2 separate regions of the Homo sapiens genome follow, and region 2 is linked to region 1. The links come from fine-mapping of genetic effects on gene expression. A gene starts in region 1. The other region holds a variant in brackets. All regions are shown on one strand. Distances are between the middles of the regions.

What was found.
Region 2: its variant is fine-mapped to the expression of BNIP3L in whole blood (TOPMed, PIP above 0.99).

The regions. Positions count from the first base shown.
Region 1 is chr8:26,381,546-26,384,458 of GRCh38, reverse strand. It overlaps BNIP3L (BCL2 interacting protein 3 like), which reads right to left and starts at 1,405. Exons shown (of 6, transcript NM_004331.3): 1 at 1,229-1,405. The coding sequence starts at 1,328. It also overlaps the pseudogene SDAD1P1. RefSeq lists a silencer at 656-1,245 and enhancers at 1,456-1,755, 1,729-2,913.
Region 2 is chr8:26,445,278-26,448,190 of GRCh38, reverse strand. LOC124901868 (vegetative cell wall protein gp1) reads left to right here. Exons shown (of 2, transcript XM_047422506.1): 2 at 1-995. Among named protein-coding and RNA genes, the nearest start is that of BNIP3L, 64 kb to the right of the region's middle. The variant T/G (reference allele first, on the strand shown) is at 1,810.

The DNA of each region.
Region 1 (2,913 bases):
ATATAACCATCTTACATTCTGGAATATATGACACTTAAAGGTTTTGGGAATTAACCCATCAAAACCTGGAGCAGCAGCATCCATCTTAAAATCTCCAAACTCCATCGCTACCTGGTGAGGGCTGAAACTCTCTTCCCTAAAATAATCTTCAGGCCACACTGGAAGCACCTCCCTCTTACGAAAGATACTGCATGACCTTTAAGCATCCAAGTGGTTTTGAAAAGACTTCATCTGGCCATATGCTCACTGCTCCCATTACCTCTTTCCCAAGAGTTGAATTAAAGAAAGGTTAGGCAAGAACCCTTCCAAGAAGGCTCCCGGTTCTCACGACTAGGAACAATCTGAGGACAAGATGTCTGGGCAGCGGAATGTTATGAAAAGACCCTGGCCTGGGTTGTCTATCAGCCTCGTCCGTTAACTTTCAACTGCCCGAGTGCGTTTTTAATTCCGTTTCTTTAAATGCATGGCCCCAGACTCCCTGACGTGTGCAATCTTGGGTGGTTCAGGAGGCTGCTCTCAGCTTTACTGGGCGCACAACCCATCGCTTTAAAAAAAAAAAAATCACTTGGGCAACTTCGAGAAATCTAATAAAAAAATAAAAAAGGAAAAAGGAGAAGCAAGGCACAGCCTCTCACCCCACACGTGACTGAAGCCAACCCTAGACGAGCAAATGAATTTTCCTGACAAACGTGTGGCAACAAAGGAATGCTCGCTGGGGGGCTCCCGCGCCCGCCAGACGCTGCCCGCCCGCGAGCCCCGCACACCTGATCCCCGACACGTCCCGCGGCAGCCGCCCGCCCCGCCCCGCTCCCGCGCGTCCATCCCCCGGCGTCCCCGCCGCACGTCCCCATCCCGGCCCACGTCCCCTCCGCGGCCCGCTCCGCCCACCCGGCCTCCCCGCCCCCCAGGCCCGCCCCCGCCCCGCCCCGCCCGGCTCCGCTGCTGGGGACCACCCCCCGCACCAGGGGGATCCGCGCTACCCGCGCCGCTCCCGGACCGCGAGCCCAAACGGCCCCGGGCCCAAGACCCCAGGAGGCAACAGAGAGGCCCGGAGCAAGGCAGGCGCCCCTCCTCTTGACAGGGGACGGGAGCTGTCAGTCACCTGGACATCCCATGCCTGAGCCAATGAGCTGCCTTCTCCTCCCGCCTCCCGCGCCGCGCCGGTGGCGGCGGCCGGGGCTGCTCCTCCTCCCCCATCCCCTTCACAGAGCCTCGGCCCCGCACTCACTGTTGAGGCCGGCCGGCGGGGGCAGAGACTGCTCATTTTCCTCGCAGTTGTTGTTGTTGTTGTGCAGGGGCGGCGGCGGCTCGACTAGGTGGGACGACATTGTCGGACAGCTGGCAGGACTGCGGCAGCAGCAGGACCGTCTCCGGCACTCAGGCAGCAACACAACAAGCCGAGTCCGCCGCCCCCTTTTCTGCGCCTGCGCCGTCCCTCCCCTGCCCCTGACGTCAGGGCCCGCCCAGGCCACGTGATGACAACACAACAAGCGACCGGACGGGGCAGGGGCGCTCCCCTGCGGGCCCCGGACGTGGAGACGCTCGAGTCAGGCTGACGCGCGCGCCGGGAACGAACTCTTGCGTGTGACTTGGGATGACCGGATGGGATGAGTGATGCCAGTGGCAGTGGGAGAGAGGATGAGGAGAAACGGAATGAGGAAGTGCGCTCCTGTGTTCGCGCCCGTGCCTCCTCTCACACAGGCTCCACAGTGCTTCACCCAGCCCTGCGCACGCATCTGTTTTCTACCTCTTAGGACTCACTTCTGCAATAGGTGTCTTGGGGACACAAAGGAATCCCCAAACCCAGGTGCCTCCACGTGTAAACTCCAAATAAAGCTGCTGAAACATCAACACTCCATACGGGAAACAAGGGAAGGCCGCCCCCAAATTTAATTGTTACAGAATTTTTAAAATGTCGATTACAAACACACCATCATTCTGAAAAAAAGAGAAAGAAGAAAGGGGAAGAAAGAAAAAAGAAAAATTCAGGAAAACAGAGAGAAGAAAGTACTCACCCAAATCCCATCGACTAATCGATTTCTGGGACATGACGTGGGAAGCCGTTTATCCTGTACGTGGATGACATTAAACTATGTTCCTGAGCACACCTCCTACTTCACATCTCCATGTCTTCGTCCAGTCTCCTTGGTCTGATTTATGAGTGACATATGTTTCTCGCAGTCTCTAACTTGTCTTTTAATTTGTTTTTTTCACTCTGTAGAAGCTTAAGGTTTTCATGTAATCAGATTTATCATTCTTACATGGCTTGGGGAGACAGTCACACCAAGATTACTAATCTATAATTCCCTTATAACTTTTTCTAATTTTCTTATAGGCTTAACTTTACATTTAGAGCTCTAATCCATCTGAAATTTATTTTCCATATGCTGTAAATTATTTAACTTCAATTCTTCCCAATTTTGTAGCCCATTGACCTAATAATATTAATTTTAAGCCATCCTTTCTACACTGATTTGAAATTGCACCTTTGTCACTCTCTGAATGACCACAAAAATGTGAGTCTGTTTCAGGGCTATCTGCAATACCTCTGTTAGATAACTATTAAAGTTTCTCTTCCTTTGTCTTTTTCAGATGTTAATGGCTAGTTACTCTTCAGATGAACTTAAAAATGGACTTGTCCAAGATTGACCTTGTGTTGGTAATTATTGAAGCTATGTAATACATTAAAGTATTCCTCTAATTTTTTAATATATTTGAAAAAGTCCATGCTAAAAGGTTTTTTTTAAGGATTGATTTGTCAAATCCCTTTGCAAATTCTTTTAAGATTTTGGTCAGAAATGAACTCTATTAATAGATTGAGTGCTGTTTCCGGTCATACCCGGAAGCAGGAGTTCAAGCCGCAGCTGGTAGGGATTGGCGGCTGCTGGCCATCTGAGTTTTATTAAAACTGCT
Region 2 (2,913 bases), 64 kb before region 1:
CCCTTCACTGCTTAGTTTTTTTTTCCTTAGCCCTTGCCGCAGTCAAACTCGAATGCGTTTGTGAATCACCTGAGGACCTTCCTACAACACAGATGCGAATTCACTTGGTCGAGGGTGGGTCCCCAAGTTTCTAACGCGTGTCCGTGATATTCTGCTGCTCCCCACCTGCCTGCGGATCTGCGAGGACCTTTGACTTACAAAGGGTCCAACATGCAGATAATACAAAAGTTTATTTTTCCTATGTATTTTGGTTTACCATCCCCCGAACTTGAATGTGAGTTCCACCAGGATAGAGCTCTGGTCTGTTTTGTTTGCTGCTATATTCTCTGTACCTGGAACAGGCCTGGCACATAGTAGGAGCACTATGTTATTTCCAGAAGGAAGCAGTGAATGAAATACAAACCAGAAAAGACAGCAGAGGTGATAAACCTAACATTATACAAAGTGAAAGTCAAGGTGCAAATTATGAACGAAACAAAGGTTTTACACTCATTTTTAAAAGGGAGAAATAACAGTCACAAGCCCTTAGGTCCTAAAGTAAAAACTGTCTCCCCAAAAAAGGAAAATTGCAAATACTACATTGATTTTAGAAAGGTTAACTCCCATCTTGGTCACATCTCAGAAGCAAAAAGTGACGTAAAAGACTTGAATAAAGAAATTAATGGCCAGGCGTGGTGGCTCATGCCTGTAATCCCAGCACTTTGGGAGGCCGAGGTGGGCAGATCACTTGACGTCAGGAGTTTGAGACCAGCCTGGGCAACATGGGGTAACCCCGCCTCCACTAAAAACGTAAAAATTAGCTGGGTGTGGTATCAGGCACCTGTAATACCAGCTACTCAGGAGGCTGTGGCAAGAGAATCAGTTGAACCTGGGAGGCAGAGGTTGCAGTGAACTGAGATTGTGCCACTTCACTCCAGCCTGGGCAACAGAGTGAGACTCGTCAAAAAAAAAAAAAAAAAAAAAAAGAATAAACAGGACCTGTGTATTTACTAGTTTATTGTTGTAAAATATGCATAACATAAAATTTACCATGTTAACCATTTTAAGTGTGCCGTTCAGTGGCATTAAGTACATCCACATTATTGTACAACCATCACCACTGTCCATCTCCAGGACTTTTTCATCTTCCCAAACTCTATATGATTAAACAATAACTCCCCTTCTCCTTCCCTCCAACCCGTGGTAATCACTATTATACTTTCTGTCTTTGAATTAGACTACTTTAGGTACCTCATATAAGTGGAATCATATACTGCTTATCCTTTTGTGACTGGCTTATTTTACTTAGTATGATGTCTTCAAGGTTGATCCATGTTGTAGCATGTATCTGAATTTCATTCCTTTTTTTTTTTTTTTTGAGACAGAGTCTCGCTCTGTCAACCAGGCTGGAGTGCAATGGTGCGATCTCAGCTCACTGCAACCTCCGCCTCCGTGGTTCAAGCAATTCTTCTGCCTCAGCCTCCCAAGTAGCTGGAATTACAGGTACCTGCCATCATGCCCGGCTAATTTTTGCATTTTTGTAGAGACGGGGGTTTCACCAAGTTGGCCAGGCCGGTATTGAACTCCTGACCTCAGGTTATCCGCCCACCTTGGCCTCCCAAAATGCTGGGATAACAGGTGTGAGCCACTGATCCTGGCCTCATTCCTTTTTTATAGCTGAATAATAACCCATTGTATGTATACACATTTGTTTCTCCATGCATCTGTTGATATACACTTGGGCTTCTTCTACCTTTTGGCTATTGTGACTAATGCTGCTATAAGCGTGGGTGTACAAACAGCTATTTAAGTTTCTGCTTTCAGTTTTTT[T/G]GGGAATATACCCAGAAACCCAGAAGTGAAACTGCTGGATCATATGTTTCATTTTTTGAGGAACTCGCATACCGTTTTCTGTAGCGGCTGCACCATGTGAACTAAGGTTAAAATGAATGTTTCGCCGTTGCTGGACTAGTTGTCCTAGGGTTTTTTCTAGCTCTGCTGGCCTGTGGTTAGAGAAATGTGAGGATGAACAACAGGGAAGGGAAGTGGATTGGAAGGACACGGGCAGTCTTCCAGCTCAGATGCTGGAAGTGGTGGTGGTGAGGGTGGGGGAAGGGTGTTTATGAAGTCATAATCCAGTCACGGACCTCAGGACATTTGGGCTGGGAGAGGTAGACCTAGGCCAGTTTGGAGTACTAGGCAATGGGGGCGGGGGGGTCCCTGCACCTCAAAGAGGCCTGAGAAAGAAGAACCTCACATGTATCAGGGAGTCCCAGAGAAAATGGTGCAAGGAGCAATGCCCAGTGGCCAGCCATCCTCAATGTCATGGCCCCGGAGGCCAGAACAGTAGAGAAATTCAAGGTGCGGAGACCGGCTCCCTCACATGGGCAACCTGGCCCACTGGCTCTTACCATTCATATATCTGTGAACATGGCCTTATTTGGAAATAGTATCGTAGCAGATCTGATTATGTAAAGATGAGGTCCTTTTGGATTAGAGTGGGCCTCATAAGACAAGGGGGTTGGGGCGCACAGACACACACCTGCCCTGTGGGCAGGTGAGGAAACTGGAGCAAATGCCAGCTCCCTGAACAGAACAGAGTGAGCCTGACAGTTGGGCATCTGTCCAAACCACACGAGCAGGCCCGGCAGGAAAAGTACCTGTCCAGTGGACAAGCGGCCCATGCAATCAGGACAGCTGGGAAGAGGCTGATGCTTTCAGCCACGCTTCATCTCCTTGTCCTCATTTGGGCAGAGGTAAAGAAAGAGCACTACTGGCTGCACATGGTGGCTCACGCCTGTAATCCCAGCACTTTGGGAGGCTGAGGCAGGCGGATCACTTGAAGTCAGGAGACCAGCATGGCCAACATGGTGAATTCTCATCTCTAACAAAAATACAAAAATTACCCGGGTGTGGTGGCACATGCCTGTAATCACA